2 separate regions of the Homo sapiens genome follow, and region 2 is linked to region 1. Evidence: fine-mapped expression QTL. Tissue or cell type: whole blood. Region 1 holds a variant in brackets; the other region holds the start of a gene. All regions are shown on one strand. Distances are between the middles of the regions.

The links. PIP is the estimated chance that this variant, and not a neighbour inherited with it, causes the effect.
Region 2: it holds the start of FOXK1, and the variant in region 1 is fine-mapped to the expression of FOXK1 in whole blood (INTERVAL, PIP 0.90).

What each region holds. Positions count from the first base shown.
Region 1 is chr7:4,747,873-4,755,872 of GRCh38, forward strand. It overlaps FOXK1 (forkhead box K1), which reads left to right. Exons shown (of 9, transcript NM_001037165.2): 3 at 6,587-6,743; 4 at 7,365-7,511. Among named protein-coding and RNA genes, the nearest start is that of AP5Z1, 24 kb to the right of the region's middle. RefSeq lists enhancers at 1,972-2,471, 5,880-6,434, 5,939-6,028 and a silencer at 6,026-6,320. The variant C/A (reference allele first, on the strand shown) is at 4,393.
Region 2 is chr7:4,676,275-4,685,444 of GRCh38, forward strand. It overlaps FOXK1 (forkhead box K1), which reads left to right and starts at 6,021. Exons shown (of 9, transcript NM_001037165.2): 1 at 6,021-6,594. The coding sequence starts at 6,035. RefSeq lists enhancers at 5,022-5,522, 5,724-6,018, 6,878-7,405 and silencers at 5,732-6,101, 6,252-6,321.

The sequences.
Region 1 (8,000 bases):
TCTTGTTCTGACACCCAGGCCGGAGTGCAGTGGTCCGGTCACGGCTCGCTGCAGCCTCGACCTCCGGGACTCAAGCGATCCTCCCACCTCAGCCGTGACTACAGGAGCAATCCACTAGTTAATTTTTAAAAATAGCTTCCCAGCATTTTACAATGTCGGATTTATCTTAAAGGAACACATTCTTTAAGATCATTCTAAGAAATTCGCCTCTGAAAATTTTCTTTCCCTATTTGTTTATTTTTCCTTTTTCAGATTACGAAGAGACTATCTATCTATCTATATGCATCTTACAAAATGCAAACATTTCAGAAAGTGAAAATTCCCCCACACAACGCTCCCCAGAGCTGAGCCCTTCTCTCTCACTTCTGTGTCTCTGAGTCGTATTCGTACGTGACTGTCTCTTGGTTTTTCCGTTTTAGATATTACACATGAGGTTCCTATATGGAAATTAAGGATTTAGCTTCCCCCCTCCCCATCCCAGTAAAGTTACATCATCATGTCTGGTTTACCTTGCATGAGCGTTTTCTGTATTAGAACTGTGTAGTGATTGTAGCGCTTAGCCATTTCCTTCCTTGTACTTTTGGCTTATTTCCGCCACACTCCCCCCGCTCTTGGGGTTAATAATGGCCTCTTCTCCCTTTACTGTGAAGGCCTTCCTCTGGGGCCCCTCTGACCATGGGATCATCTTCTCCACCATCCTGGGAATCCCCTCAGGAGGTGGTGGTGGAGAGAGGGCTGTTTCCTGATTCCCACGTCTTCCTCTTTCCTGATTTGTTCCTTTGTTTTACCAGAGTCCATCCCCCAGTCGCTTCCTGGGAAAGGGCACAGGAGACAGACTTTTCATTTATTCACTGATTTAAGAGACAAGGTCTCACTTTGTTGCCCAGGCTGGTACTTCTGGGCTCAAGCGAGCCTCCTGCCTCAGCCTCCCGAGTAGTAGGGACTACAGGTGTGCACCACCATGCCCGGCTAATTTTTGTATTTTTTGTAGAGGTGGGGTCTCCCCATGTTGCCCAGGCTGGTCTTGAACTCCTGTGCTCAAGTTATCTGCCCACCTCAGCCTCCCAAAGCGCTGGGATTACAGGTGTGAGCCACCTCGCCTGGACCCCCAGGTTCCTGTCCACGCTTCTGGGACTGGCTGTGCCTGGCGGGCCTCTGAGCTGAGTCTCTCATGCCTCTCCTTTCCTTTCTCTCTCTACTTTCTGAGGGATTTTCTCCAGTCTCTCCTTCCACCCTTTCTTGGATTTGTATTTCTCTTCTTTTGAATTCTTATTTTTTAATTTGAAGAGCGTGTTCTTGCTCTGCAGGTGTGCTTTGCATGCTGTTCTTACTGTCCTACAGAGACGGCATCGTTACCTCCCTAGGGACGGGAACCATGTTTCATCTCCTCCCAAGCTCCCGTAGGCTTCCCTGGGTCCCTCTTCTCTTCTGTTTTGCACCATGTTCCACCTGGTAGAAGCTTCCTCAAACCACAGATGTGCCTTGGCCGGCTGTTGTGTTTAACAGTGAGGTCCTAAAAACCCTCTTAGAGCGGCTGGTATTGGAGCAGGGGCTGGGGCAGGGACCCCAAGCGTCCTCCTCTGCAGGGAGGTTCCCCCAGGAGGCTTCAGGTGCCGCCTTGGGACGCAAAGGTCATCGCAGACCCCCGCAGCCTTCTCGCCCCTCCACTGCCCACAAGGCTCCGTCGCAGCTCCTTCCTCCAGCCCCTCCAGGCGGGTCCCTCTGTGTCTCTAGGGCTTCAGGAGGGATCAGGTCCCTTCTGACAGAGCACTGTCCTCCCTGGGCCTGCCGGAAGCGATAACTGTCCCGACCCTAGGCCTCTCAGGGTGGCCTTCTCAGCCTCAGAGCAGAGCCAAGGGCATTGAGGGTGGACTGGAAGGACCGCAGCCCTGTGCCCTGGGGAAGGCTTGTCTTAGGCTCTGGGGACGGAGCCCAGCTGGCGGCTCCAGAGGTGGCTTTAGGTCTGTTGTTGGATTTGCCTTTCTCAGCGTGACTTCTCATCATAACGTGACCCAGCGACCTGTGTGTCCCACAGCCCGTCCGTCCCTCTGCAGTCTCCCTGCACTGGCATGTCCTGGGTGGTCCCAGTGGCACCTTCTAGGCCCGGCCCCTGGATGCGGTGGAGGCTGCCCGGGGTGGGTCAGCATGGGGTTGTCCCTGTGAGCACAGCTCCGGGAGACCCGTACTCAGAATCCTCCAGCTCTCTCGCCTGAGGCGGAAATGTGACTTGGGAATTGTCCTCCATATAAAGGAAGCAAAATCAGGGCCTAGGGGTGAGCTGCTTACTGTGCTTCTTCCCTCTCTCAGCCTCCAATCGGGGGGCACAGGCGTTTGATTCCCGCGACGTCTGTGGGCTGTCACTGTCCAGCCTCTGCGTCCCACACCTGGGCAGCTAGGGACTGGGGGGGGCCTGACCGAGGCCTGGGGTACTTACCCCAGAAGGAGTGATTCCCTGTTTCCTGGAATTGAGCTGGTGGTCCCTGTCAGGGAGCAGTGGGGTCCCCTCAGCTTCCTGCTCTTTCTCATTCCCGCAGGAGGAAATGTGTGCACGTGTATGCCGTCGTTTTCAGCACTTTTTTTTTTTTTTTGAGACAGAATCTCGCTCTGTCGCCCAGGCTGGAGTGCAGTGGCACGATCTCTGCTCACTGCAAGCTCCGCCTCCCAGGTTCACGCCATTCTCCTGCCTCAGCCTCCCAAGTAGCTGGGACTACAAGTGCCCGCCACCACACCCAGCTAATTTTGTTTTCTGTATTTTTTAGTAGAGACAGGATTTCACCGTGTTAGCCAGGATGGTCTCGATCTCCTAACCTCGTCATCCACCCGCCTCGGTCTCCCATCTTTTTTTTTTTGAGACAGAGTTTCACTCTTGTTGTCCAGGCTGGAGTACAATGGCATAATCTCGGCTCACTGCAACCTCTGCCTCCCGGGTTCAAGCAATTCTCCTTCCTCAGCCTCCCGAGTAGCTGGGATTACAGGCATGCACCACCACGTCTGGCTGATTTTGCATTTTCAGTAGAGACGGGATTTCTCTAAATCGGGCAGGCTGGTCTCGAACTCCTGACCTTAGGTGATCTGCCCACCTCGGCCCCCTCAAAGTGCTGGGATTACAGGCGTGAGCCACCGTGCCTGGCCTTCAGCACTTTTTTTTTTTTTTTTTTTTGAGATGGAGTCTTGCTCTGTCGCCCAGGCTGGAGTGCAGTGGCGCAATCTCGACTCACTGCAAACTCCACCTCCCAGGTTCATGCCATTCTCCTGCCTCAGCCTCCAGAGTAGCTGGTACTACAGGCACCTGCCACCATGCCCGGCTAATTTTTTGTATTTTTTTTTTAGTAGAGACGGGGTTTCACTGTGTTAGCCAGGATGGTCTCGCTCTCCTGACCTCATGATCCACCCTCCTCGGGTAATCCCAAAAGCATTGGGATTACCAATCCCAAAGCACTGGGATTACAAGCGTGAGCCACCGTGCCCGGCCCAGCATTTTCTTTAGATTGCTAAGGGAATGTTTCCGTGGACTCCCAGCATCAGACATGGGATGTCTTGATTAGTTTTCCGGATGGCTCCAAGGCCTCTGGCTTTGGAGCTGGGTGTCCCATCCCACCCTGGCTGGGCGCCCTCAGACCTGTCTTCCCCCAGGGCACTTTACAGCTCTTAGCGGCTGTGAGGCTCGAGCAGCCTCTGCTTCCCGCCTCCGTCAGCTGCAGGCCTGGTATCGGGGGCCTTGGTATCAGGAGCCTGGTACCAGGCACAGCCCCGTGGCCGAGGCCCGCCTGCGGAGGACAGTTGAATGGGGCTTATTGAGAGACGGGCTGCTCCGAGGGCTGGAGGAGCCATGTGAACAAACACATGTGGTCCCTCAGCCCAGGTGGCTGGAAAACCTCAGAAGCTGCGCTGTCGTACCTGTCCCGGCTGGAGTGACACCAGGATCCGGCAGCCCAGGCCAGGTCCAGTGCTGGGGAAAGTGGCGGAGAAACCACCCTACTCTCTCGCCTGTGGGAGCCAGGCTTCGCCAACCTTTCTTATTTCCACTTGAAATCATTCTCTGGGGAATGACAACTTTTCCTGTGGGTTTTACTCCATGAGGTTTTTTGTTTGTTTTTTGAGATAAGGTCTCACTCTGTTGCCCAGGCTAGAGTGCAGTGGTGTGATCATAGCTCACTGCAGCCTCGACCTCCCAGGCTCAAGCCATCTTCCTGCCTCAGCCTCCTGAACAGCTGGAACTGCAGGTGTGCATTACCACGCCCAGCTAATTTTTAAAATGTTAAAACTTTGTTTATTTATGTATTTATTTATTTATTTTTAGAGACAGGGTCTTGCTCCGCCAGAGTGCAGTGGCACAATTATAGCTCACTGTAGCCTCAAACTCCTAGGCTCAAGCAGTCCTCCTGCCTCAGC[C/A]TCCTGAGTAGCTGAGACTACAGGTGCACACCACCACACCTGTCTAATGTTAATATTTTTGTAGAGATGGGGGTGTCACTATGTTGCCCAGGCTAGTTTCGACCATGTGGGCTCAAGCGATCCTCCTGCCTGGGCCTCCCAAATTGCTGGGCTTACAGGCATGAGCCACCGCACCCGGCAGACATGAATTTTCTATGATCTTCTGCAAAATAACTGCTGGGAACAGGAGCAGGTCCCTGCCACACGTGCTGGGCCATCACTGTTTGTTGTGGAGTGCTGGGGGGTGCCCCTCATTGGTCCTCAGGAAGGATCCAGGAGCCCGCCTGCCACCTCATGGGCCTCGGATGAGATTTTCCGAGCTGAGTGGCCATTCCCCAGCCTGTGGCCGGAGATCAGAGTGTATGTGAGTGACACCTCGGCTCAGTGGTCCCCAGCAAGGACTGACATTTCAGTTCTTCCTGCTGAGTCCAAGGGGGACGTCCAGTGGCTTTGGGTCTGGGACCGGGTGCACAGGCGTGTGCTGGCCCCATTGTCTGCAGCCCCTCCGGCCATGAGGCCATCCTGCCTCAGCAGGGAGGTGTTTGGTTCCCAGAGGCCTTTGACAAAGCCGATTTTGGGGGCTGTGTGCTGTTACCAGTCAAAACCTTTCTCTCCCCTTCTCATCTTACTTGTAAACTTGGGTTTTGTATTTTGGATTCAGAACTAAATTCAGAAAAGGTTTCCTTTTGACTGTTTCCTACCTCGATCGAGCCATTTGTGGGTGTTCATTTAAGTTTCGACACGTGTGGAACTTACCTATCTCTGCCATATTTGGGGAGTCCGTTGTAAGAGAGAATGGGAATTCCAGATCAGAGTCCTTAACGTTCCATGTGGGTGACACTGAGTCCTTCCTGAAAATGCCCCAGACCTGAACTGATCATTAATGTCAGCTGTCAGGTTTTTCTCAGCCACAGGATTTTTTTCATTCATTCCTCTGCTCCATCCAAAAAATGTTTCTTGAGCCCCGCCTGCACCCAAGGGGGCTCCTACTTAACCTAAGTTTTGGAGATCTAGGAGTCTTGTGCCTGGACAGTTAGGGAAGGATGTTCCTGGCAGAGGAAAGGGCAGCAAGGCGGGAGGAGGAGAATGGACCTTCTGGATGGTTCTGGATGGTTCTGGGTGGTTCTGGATGGTTCTGGGTGGCCTGCAGGGCAGTGCAGCAGGGAGCATCCTACCCGCCACGGGGGCTCTAAGTCAGCTGAGAGGGGGGATGTCAGCATCACAGGTGGGCAGGGTCCATCTCAGGACGGGGCTAGGTGGGTGCCCGTGAGCTCAGGACAGTGGGATCTCTTTCTCTCGGGAGGTTCTGCACCCACTCTTCGTGTCTTCATTGGCTTTCTCTGAATACCTGTAATAGAAATCATTTTCAGAAGCAAAACATCGCCGTGGTTTGCTGACGGAAGCCTGCCTTAGTGAGTTAGGGAAGCAGGCCAGAGCACACCCCTCAGCCGGACGGACGCAGCCTCCTGCCTGTGGTCCCGGCCTCAACCCAGAGCCTCACCTGCAGCCGGGGGTGTCGGTCACTCCCAGCCATCTGTGGTTGCTCCAGCCTGGGAGGGAGAGGGGATGAGGGCAGGGGCATCTCAGCGGCTCAGGGCAAAACTGCAGGGGTCATCTCTTCCCGAGGGCGGTGTCTCCAGGAGAGCCACCTGCCACGCCTTCACCCTGCAGGGCGATGGCACCTCCACAGCCTCTTTCCAGGATCTGCCTCTGTGACCACACGGGGTTGTCCTGGGCCCGAGCCTTTTCCCACAGCGCCGCCTTGTGGACACCTGTGCAGGAGCCAGCAGCCCGCGGAGGCTACCTGCTCCGGGTGCACATCCTGTAGGGGTGTGTGTGGGGGGACCTGAGGAGGGGCCCCACAGAGCTGCCTGACCAGGTGCTGCCCTGGGCCCTGCATAATGGCAGGAGGAGGGCCCGCGGTGCTCTCAGCCCCCGAGCAGAAGTCACCACTGGAAGGAAACTTGCCTGCCGTTTCCAGCATCTTGTCCCCGCCGCTGCGTGACCTTGGCCGGGCAGTGTGGTGGCACTTAAAATTGGAAAGTGTGAGCTTCTTCCCCACAGCCCCACCCTCTGGGTAGGTCCTGAAGCCCTGAGCCCCACAGGGGCCCCCTCTTCAGAGCCATGAACTTACAGTGTCCTTCTCTCTCCTCAGTGTCCCCAACTCCTGCCCAGCCAGTCCACGCGGTGCCGGCTCCTCCAGTTACCGCTTTGTGCAGAACGTGACCTCGGACCTGCAGCTGGCAGCAGAGTTTGCAGCAAAGGCCGCGTCGGAGCAGCAGGCAGACACGTCTGGAGGAGACAGCCCCAAGGTCTGAGCCCACCTGGCGCCGTGGTGCACCTGGTGACCCAGGATCGGGCCATAGTGACCCGGCGCGGGCGGCACAGACAGCCCAGGGCCTGCGGGCGTGTGCTCGAGGTGGTCTCAGCCCACAGGGAATGGAGCCGCAGCTGGCGGTAGAGCCGTCGGCCCTTTCTCGTTTTCGTGCCCAAATCATCCCCGTTGGTCATTTGCTGGTGACAGGGGTGGCGCCGTCACCGAGGGCCCCTCCCGCCACGCTCCTTGTTCATCTGCCGCTGGCAGCCCGGCGTCAAAGCCTTCATACAGCCCTTGAGCAGGATGGCGTTCTCCTTATAACTTTGTCTTAGTTCATTTTTGTCCAATAGCTGTTTTCAAATTGATTTCTGGAAGAGGTGAGAAATTTCAGAATTAAATTATAATAAAACCGAAGTTTTCCTTCCCATGAGGCAAAAATGGTTGTTCCTAGTTGAATGCAAGCACATTAATGGGATAGTTGGAGGGCACTGGGACGGGTGCCGGCAAGACGCGCACATTCTCGTGGGAAGGTTCCTCCCCATCAGCTGTGACGGGTGGGTGGGGTAGACTCAGGGACCTTGCTGGAGCTCATCCCGTGAGCCGTGTTTCTCCGCAGGATGAGTCAAAGCCGCCGTTCTCCTACGCGCAGCTGATCGTGCAGGCCATCTCCTCCGCCCAGGACCGGCAGCTGACCCTGAGCGGGATCTACGCCCACATCACCAAGCATTACCCCTACTACCGGACGGCCGACAAAGGCTGGCAGGTGAAGCCGAGTCCCCAGGGCCGGATCGCCTCTGAAGGCCCTTAGAACATGGAACTCACAGGCATATTGCTTCCCTTAAAACAGAAGAGGGCCAGTGAGGGGGCTCACGCCTGGAACCCTAGCATTTTGTGAGGCCGAGGCAGGAGGAGGATCAAGACCAGCCTGTGCAACATAGAGAGAACCTCTTTTCTACTAAAAATTAGCTGAGTGTGGTGGTGCACACCTGTGGTCGCAGCTACTCGGAGGCTGAGGTGGGAGGATCACTTGAGCCCAGGAGGTGGAGGCTGCAGTGAGCTATGATCACACCACTGCACTCCAGCCTGGGAGACAGAGAAAGACCCTGTGTCTACAAAGAAAAAAAATATCTTTTTAACTAAGAAGATAAATATAAAAGAGGGATGTTTTCACGAATGGCATATGGTACATCTGAAAGGCATTAGCGCTGTGATACCATTGTGTCTAAATACTCTTTTTTATTAGTTTCCTTCT
Region 2 (9,170 bases), 71 kb before region 1:
TGTCAGTTTGTGCACAATTCTTTCTTTCTTCCTTTCTTTTTTTGAGACGGAGTCTTGCTCTGTCGCCAGGCTGGAGTGCAGTGGCGCGATCTCACCTCACTGCAACCTCTGCCTCCCCGGTTCAAGCGATTCTCCTGCCTCAGCCTCCCAAGTAGCTAGGACTACAGGTGCACGGCACCATGCCTGGCTAATTTTTTTGTATTTTAGTAGAGACAGGGTTTCACCATGTTGGTCAGGCTGGTCTTGATCTCCTGACCTCGTGATCTGTCCCCCCTCACCCTCCCAAAGTGCTGGGATTACAGGCCTGAGCCACCATGCCCAGCCTCTTTCTTTTCTTTTCTTTTTTCTTTTTTTTTTTTGAGACAGGGTCTCATTCTGTCCCCCAGGCCGGAGTGCAGTGGTATGGCGATCTTGCTCACCGCAGCCTCGACCTCCGGAGCTCAAGTGATCCTCCAGCCTCTGTCCCGTAAGTAGCTGGGATTACAGCCATGCGCCACCACACCTGGCTAATTTTTTGTATTTTTTGTAGAGACAGGGTTTCACTGTGTTGCTCAGGCTGGTGTCAAACTCCCGACTTCAAATGATCTATCCACCTCGGCCTCCCAAAGTGCTGGGATTACAGGCATGGGCCGCCTCGCCTAGTCTACAATTTTTTTTTTTTTTGAGATGGAGTCTGGCTGTGTCGCCTAGGCTGGAGTGCAGTGGCGCAATCTCAGCTCACTACAACCTCTGCTTCCTAGGTTCAAGTGATTCTCCTGCCTCAGCCTCCTGAGTAGCTGAGATTACAGGTGCCAACCACCATGCCCGACTAATTTTTATATTTTAGTAGAGACGCGGTTTCACCATGTTGGCCAGGCTGGTCTCAAATTTCTGACCTCAGGTGATCCTCCCGCCTCAGCCTCTCAAAGTGCTGGGATTACAGGCGTGAGCCACCACGCCCAGCCTACAATTATTTACATTTAATATTGTTAGGCCTATGGTGCCTGGAAGTACATACATGCCTCTTGTCATTAAATAAATCTGTCATTAAGAAGTCAGAAGTCATCTCAAGGAGTCCAAAGGAAGAGACCGTATGAGGAGGTTGTATGTAAATCTCTCTCTTTACAATTGTGGTAAAATACACATAACATAACATTTAACGTCTTAACCGTATTTTTTTTTTTTTGAGACCGAGTCTCACTCTGTCTCCAAGGCCGGAGTGCAGTGGCGCAATCTTGGCTTACTAAAACCTCTGCTTCCTGGGTTCAAGTGATTCTCCTGCCTCAGCCTCCTGAGTAGCTGAGATTACAGGCGCACACCACCACGCCCAGCTAATTTTTGTATTTTAGTAGGGATGGGGTTTCACCATGTTGGTCAGGCTAGTCTCAAACTCTTGAGCTCAAGTGATCTGCCTGCCTCGGCCTCTCAAAGTGCTGGGATTACAGGCATGCGCCACCGCGCCCGGCCGTCGGAACCATTTTCAAGTGCACAGATCAGTGGCATGAAGCACATTCCCAGTGCTGTGCAATCAACACCATCAGCCACCTCCACAATGTTCTCATCTTGCCCAACAGAAACTCTGTCCTTATTCCACAGTAACTCCCGGTCTCCCCTCTCCCAGTCCTCGGCACCCAGCATTCTACCCTCTGTCTCTATGAATCTTACTGACCAAGGGACCCCATAGAAGTGGAATCACATCACATTTGTCTTTCTGTGACCAGCTTATTTCACTGAGCATAATGTCCTCAAAGCTCATCACTTCACATGTCACGTATGTCAGAGTTTCCTTCCTTTTCAAGTCTGAATCATACCCCACTGTATGTGGTACCACAGGGGTAAACGCACACTTGGATTGCTTCCACCTTCTGGATCTCGTGAATAAATAACGCTGCTGTGAACATAGCATGCAAGTATCTCTTCAAGACCCTGCTTGCAATTCTTTGGGGGTATAAACCCAGAAGTGGAAGTCTGCATTGCATCTTATGGGAACTCTAGTTTGTTTATTTATTTATTTATTCGTTTATTTATTGAGACAGAGCTTCGCTCTGTCACCCAGACTGGAGCGCAATGGCATGATCTCAGATCACTGCAACCTCTGCCTTCCAGGTTCAAGCAATCCTCATGCCTTAGCCTCCCGAGCGGCTGGGACAGGTGCCCACCACCACGCCTGGCTCATTTTTTTGTATTTTTGGTAGTGACAGGGTTTCACCGTGTTGGCCAGGCTGGTCTGAAACTCCTAACCTCAGGTGATCACCCATCTGAGCCTCTCAAAGTGCTGGGATTACAGGTGAGAGCCACTGGGCCCGGCCTCGTTTTAACTTTTTGAGGACCCTGCATGCTGTTTCCCACAGAGGCTGCCCTGTGTTCCATTCCCACCAACAGTGTGTGTAAATGCCTTTGCAGGAAATCAGTATCTCCTGCATCCCTCTGCTTCTCTGCACCTCTCTCCTTTCACCTCTCTCGCTGGTCTCCAGCTTCCTGAGCAACCTCCGCCATCACTCTGACCTATTTCCAGTTCAGGATCCCCATGGCCGCTAGAGTGATTGCATTTCAGATACTGCATGTCGGTGTGCCTGCTGTCTTGCACGTAAAGCCCCTCAGTGGCTTCCCATTGCTCTAGGATCAGCCCCAGATCCTATAGGACCCACCTCAGCCCTTCTTCCCTCCTGGTTCAGCTGAACATGGCCACTCGGTTCCACACACAGTGACCACCTGCCTACCCCTCCACGGCCCATACTTCCTTCTGTATCACACAGAGTTCCCTGGCAGGGGCACTACCCTCACAGTCTCACACCACTTCCCTAATCAGGCATCCCTTAGACCTCAAGGAGGAGCCCCCTGACTCTGTTTACCATCCCCCCCACCTCAATCAAGCAGGTACTCAAGTTACTGCTCCTGCTAAAAATGCGTTCCTTGGCCGGTCACGGTGGCTGACGCCTGTAACCCCAGCACTTTGGGAGTCCGAGGCAGGTGGATCATGAGGTCAAGAGATCGAGACAACCCTGGCCAACCTGGTGAAACCCCATCTCTACTAAAAATACAAAAATTACCTGGGCATGGTGGCACACACCTGTAGTACCAGTTACTTGGGAGGCTGAGGCAGGAGGATTGCTTGAACCCTGGAGGCAGAGGTTGCAGTGAGCCGAGATCGCACCACTGCACTCTAGCTTGGCAACAGAGCGAGACTCTGTCTCAAAAAAAAAAAAAAAAAAAAAAAAAAAAAGCTTTCCTTGCCTCCCAAACACTTATCTCTGCATGCACATATTCAAGGCTGAGAGATGAGATTAATACCTATTTCAGCCCCAGACTGGAGCGTGGGTGTGCAGGTCAGGGAAGCTCCTGCCTTAGACAGGCCCAGTCTCTCGTTTACACTTGCACGTCACCATGCACCAGTCCCTCACCGGATGTATCACAGCTGTGACTTGATTTTACTTTTTCTAGGATGTGTCTTTGATTTATGTCTGCATCTCCCCCTCAACTATAAGCTCCACCAGGGAGGGAACTGTGTCTCCTTTCCCACCCTTAATAATTCGTAAATGAGGGAAATGTGGAAACTGCACCGCCTTTTTAGGGGAACCTGAACTGGCAATGGAGGACCAGGCTACTGAAGTCCGAAAGGGATCCCAATGATGCCCACGTTTGCCACTCCCTGTTTTCAGCTAAGATTTCTCTCTGGGGCATTCTCTCAGATCTGTCTTAGCTGGATCTAGCATATTGAATGAGTGAAGGGCTCCAGAAAGAAAGAGAGATAGGCTGGGCGTGGTGGCTCACGCCTGTAACCCAGCATTTGGGGAGGCTGAGGTGGCAGACTGCTTGAGCCCCAAAGTTGAACACCAACTTGGGCAATATAATGAGACCCTGTCTCTATAAAAAAATTGAAAAAGGCCAGGTGAGGCGGCTCCCGCCTGCAGCCCCAGCACTTTAGGAGGTCGAGGCAGGTGGATCACCTGAGGTCAGGAGTTTGAGACCAGCTTCACCAACATGGTTGAAACCCCGTCTCTACTAAAAATACAAAAATTAGCTGGGTGTGGTGGCAGATGCCTGTAATCCCAGCGACTTGGGAGGCTGAGGCAGGAGAATCGGTTGCAGTGAGCCGAGACTGCACCATTACACTCCAGCCTGGGTGACAGATTAAGACTCTGCCTTAAAAAAAAAAAAAATTAAAAATTAGTCGGGCATGGTGGCTCATAGTCCCAGCTACTTGGGAGGGTGAGGTGGGAAAATCACCTGAGCCCTGAAGGTTGAGGCTGCAGTGAGCTATGATTGTACCACTGCACTCCAGCCTGGGTGACAGAGTGAGACCCTGTCTCAAAAGAAAAAGACAAGAAAGAGAGAGAAGGAAGGAAGGGAGGGAGGGAGGGAAAGAAAGGAAGGAAGGAAGGAAGGAAGGAAGGAAGGAAGGAAGGAAGGAAGGAAGGAAGGCAGGCAGGCGGCCGGGCACGGTGGCTCCCGCCTGTAATCCCAGGACTTTGGGAGGCTGAGGCGGGCAGATCACCTGAGGTCGGGTTTTCAGGACTAGTCTGACCAACACGGAGAAACCCCATCTCTACTAAAAAAATACAAAATGAGCCGGGCCTGGTGGTACATGACTGTAATCCCAGCTACTTGGGAGGCTGAGGCAGGAGAATTGCTTGAATCCAGGGGGTGGAGGTTGCGTTGAGTCGAGATTGCGCCATTGCACTACAGCCTGGGCAACAAGAGCGAAACTCCGTCTCAAAAAAAAAAAAAAAGAAGGAAGGAAGGAAGGGAAGAAAGAAAGGAAGGAAGGAAGGAAAGGAGGAAGGAAGGAAGGAAGGAAAGGAAGGAAGGAAATGGAGGGAGGAAGGGAGGGAGGGAAGGAAGGAAAGGAAGGAAGGAAGGAAAGGAAAGGAAGGAAGGGAAGGAAAGGAAGGAAGGGAAGGGAAGGAAGGAGAGGAAGGGAAGGGAGGGAGGAAGGGAAGGAAGGAAGGAAAGAAGGGAGGGAGGGAAGGAAGGAAGGAAAGGAAGGAAGGAAAGGAAAGGAAGGAAGGAAAGGGAGGGAGGAAGGAAGAGAGGGAGGGAAGGAAGGAAGGAAAGGAAGGAAGGGAAGGGAAAGAAGGAGAGGAAGGGAAGGGAGGGAGGAAGGGAAGGAAGGAAGGAAGGAAAGAAGGGAGGGAAGGAAGGAATGAAGGGAAGGGAAGGAATGAAGGGAAGGAAGGGAAGGAAGGAAGGAAGGAAAGAAGGAAGGAAGGATGGATCAGGGATTCAGGGATGGATCTCAAGTGGTCTTCAGTTACAGTAGAGTATGATGACCTTTAATCTGAGGGCTTAAGAATGATCAGGCCTGGCACTGTGGCTCACACGGGTAATCCCAGTGCTTTGGGAGGTCGAGATAGATAGATCACTTGAGACCAGGAGTTTGAGACCAGCCTGGCCAACATAGCAAGACCCTGTCTCTATAAGAAGTAAAAAAATTAGCTGGGCGTGGTGGCACTTGTGAGGCAGAGGCAGGAGGGTGACTTGGGCACAGGAGGTGGAAGCTGCAGTGAGCTATGATTTTGCCACCGCACTGCAGCCTGGGCGACAGAGCGAGGTTAGAATATAAACATATGTATTGTATATAATACACATATATTTTATCTTCTGTCTATCTTACACTTTAGGGTTGGGGGCCTGGAGTGTCTGGGGCGGGGAGACTGCTGAGGTCATCCGTCCCTTTCTCCAATGACCCAGGCTCAAAACTTTGTGGCTGGGCATTTCAGGGGTCCCCTCTTCCCCCTGGATGGAGGAAAGGGCGCCCGCCGCCTGCAGCCCCGCGGGGAGGGGACGAGGTGCGCCGGGCCCAGCTCTCCCGGGGGCCCGCCGGCCCTCCCGGCACAGGCCTCGCCCCCAGCCCCGCGCTGGCGCGCGCCACGTGGGCTACGCTGGGCGGGACCGGCGGGCGGGCGAGGCGAGGCGCACGGTGGGCTGGGAGGCTCCGCTCCGCGCCGGCGCGATCTGGCCCGGGTTTCCGCGCCCGCCCAGCGCCCCGACCTCCCCGCCCCCCGCGCCGCCGCTGCAGCCGCCGCCGCCGGAGGCCGCTCGGAGCCGCGCGAACATGGCCGAAGTCGGCGAGGACAGCGGCGCCCGCGCCCTGCTCGCGCTGCGCTCGGCGCCCTGCAGCCCAGTGCTGTGCGCCGCAGCCGCCGCCGCCGCCTTCCCCGCGGCCGCACCCCCGCCGGCCCCCGCGCAGCCCCAGCCTCCGCCCGGGCCGCCGCCGCCGCCGCCACCGCCGCTGCCTCCGGGCGCGATCGCGGGCGCGGGCTCCTCCGGGGGCTCCTCCGGGGTATCCGGGGACTCCGCGGTCGCGGGCGCGGCGCCGGCCCTGGTGGCCGCGGCGGCCGCCTCGGTACGGCAGAGCCCGGGGCCGGCGCTGGCGCGGCTGGAGGGCCGCGAGTTCGAGTTCCTCATGCGCCAGCCCAGCGTCACCATCGGCCGCAACTCGTCGCAGGGCTCGGTGGACTTGAGCATGGGCCTGTCCAGCTTCATCTCGCGGCGCCACCTGCAGCTCAGCTTCCAGGAGCCGCACTTCTACCTGCGCTGCCTCGGCAAGAACGGCGTCTTCGTGGACGGGGCCTTCCAGAGACGCGGCGCGCCCGCCCTGCAGCTGCCCAAGCAGTGAGTGGCCCCGCGACCCCCGCCGCCCGCACCCGGGGCTCGCCCACGACCTCGATCTCTGAGGCCCGGGCCTGGGGATCCCCCTCCAGCTTCCTCGGCCTCGACCCCCACCCCCCGGCCCACCCCCGGTAACCCCCGACCGGCCTGGACTCCGGGGTCAACCCCGACCCCCGCCTCCTGGCTCCCTAGGATCACCCCGACCCCGATCCTGGAGGCTCCAGCCTGAGGATCTCCTCCACTTTCCCCGGTCTGGATACCCCGTCGCCCCCGACCCCCACCGGCCTGGACTCTGGGGTCAGCCCTGACCCACACCTTGCGGCTCCTGGGGTCACCCCTGACCTCATCTCCCACCGGCCTGGGCTCCTGGAGCCACCCATACCCCAAGCCCATCTGGCTGGGCCTCTTAGACCCCTGACCCAGATCCCTGCTGCTCCCCAGCTCCCATCGGCCTGGACTCCGGGGTCATTCTGAACTCCCACTGGCCTGGATCCCTGGGGTCATCTACGTCCCTACCCTGCCTAAACACGCAAGGTTAACCGCGACCCCCACTTCCTAGGCCCCCCCGGAGTCACCCCTGACCGCTAACCCCACAAGCCTGGGCTCGCAGGGCCACTCCCACCCCAGCTCCACCCAGCTGGGTTACTGAGGTCACCTTGACCCCAGTCCCTGCTGCCTGGGCCTGGGGATCACCCTCAACCCTTCCAGGTCACCCTGGACCCCCACCAGCTTGGACTCCAGGGTCACCCCAGCCTGACCTGGTTCTCAGGACCACCCCCGACCCCCACCAGCCAGGGCCTCAAGTCACCCCAGTGCCTGATGCCTGCCGTCCTGGACCCCAGTGGCTACCCCTGACCCTGTCTGGTCTGGACCCTTGGGCCACCCCCACCCCATCCAGTCTGGGTCCTGGGGGACCCCAACACACTCACCCAGGACAGTGGGAGGGTGTTGCTCCGGGAAGTGCGAGGTCCCTAGGAGTGTGGGCTGTGCTGAAGGAGCAGAGGCCTGGCGGGGAGGGGCGAGGACAGGAAGCCTGTGCCTCAGTTTACATCCCCAACTAGTGCTCCTTGGATGGAGTAGCGGGACCCCAAGATCAAATTAGATTCCCCCGGGCCCGAGGTCACCAGGGCAGAGAGACCCAGCTGGGCCTGGACGGCTGCCCAGGCCTGTCGGTGCCTTTGGTAGCATCCCGTGGTCACCTCCCGCCCATTCCGGTTCCCTCCTTTCCAGCTCCACTGCCCTCCGCACCCTCTGCTCTGCCCCGGACCTCAAGGTCTGTTGATCAGGAGAAAGCCTGTTTAATTACTCATTTCCTCTGGAGCCACTTTCTTTTTCTATTTAGTGATTGCCTCTAACTCATCACCAGTGTTTATATTTCTTCAATGTGGTTCTTGTTCAGGGTTGTCTGTCTAATTACTCCCTTTTATAAACGCCTTGCGTCTGGGGAATTTTTGCTGGGGTAATTCCCAGGGCCCAAAGTTTGTGTCTGTAAACTTCTCCCCTTTTTTAGTCTTGGCATGTTTGGTTACAGATATCGCATTGAATAATTTAAAATGCAACATCAACAATGACTCACTCCCCCTTGGGGCGTGAGAGGGGAAGTATACCTTTTTCTAACCGTGCTGAAAGGTGTGCATTTTGGTAAAATCAGAACTCAGGAGATAACAAATTTGTTCTTTGCCTCAGATATTAGTGTGTTCTCTCTCTTCCATAACCAATACACTCTCTCCGTTTGGGGCCATTAAATGCATTTCCTGGCCACTCTCCCCTCCAGTAAGAAAATGACAGGTAGGCTCCCCAGGCCCCCCTTAGAGGCCTGCTTTACAGACGCACCTTTATATAACTCAGGTTCACTAAGTACTTCCATTAAAGTCTTGTTTTCAGGTTTCCTGCCCCTGCCGTGGAAACAGGTGCACTCCTGAGTCAGGCCCAGCTTTAGTGAATCTTGAAGGAGGCTTTCACGGTATTTTTTTTTTGTAATTCAAGGGGAAAAAATTTCAACCTCAGATCGTCTACGAATAGGCCAGTAGCAAGCCTGTTATTTATGAAATGTTATCGGTGTATACAGTCCTTGCACATTTATGCTCCAGGGAGCTCGTGTTCTCGGTGGGTGCATTACCAGGCATTGTGGTGGGGCTGTCAGGCTACACAGATGCCCGCCCGCTGACTTGGTGCATTAGATGTGCGTGAAGTGCTTGGCCCACTGCGCCTGTCTGTTTTTATTTGACTTCACCTGCACATGTGAGCAATATCTATGTAGGCAGCAATGTAAAATTTACAAGAACAAAGCAAATGTGCAGAAGGAAAAACATTAAGTGGATGTCCATGTCCACCCTCCTAGAAAAGAGCTATTTGCTTTTTTTTTTTTTTTTTTTTCTGTCATGGAGTCTCGCTCTGTTGTCCAGACTGGAGTGCAGTGGCTCACTGCAAACTCTACCTCCCGGGTTCAAGAGATTCTCCTGCCTCAGCCTCCTGAGTGGCTGGGACTACAGGCGCACAACACCACGCCCAGCTAATTCTTTGTATTTTTAGTAGAGATGGGGTTTCACCGTGTTAGCCAAGATGGTCTCGATCTCCTG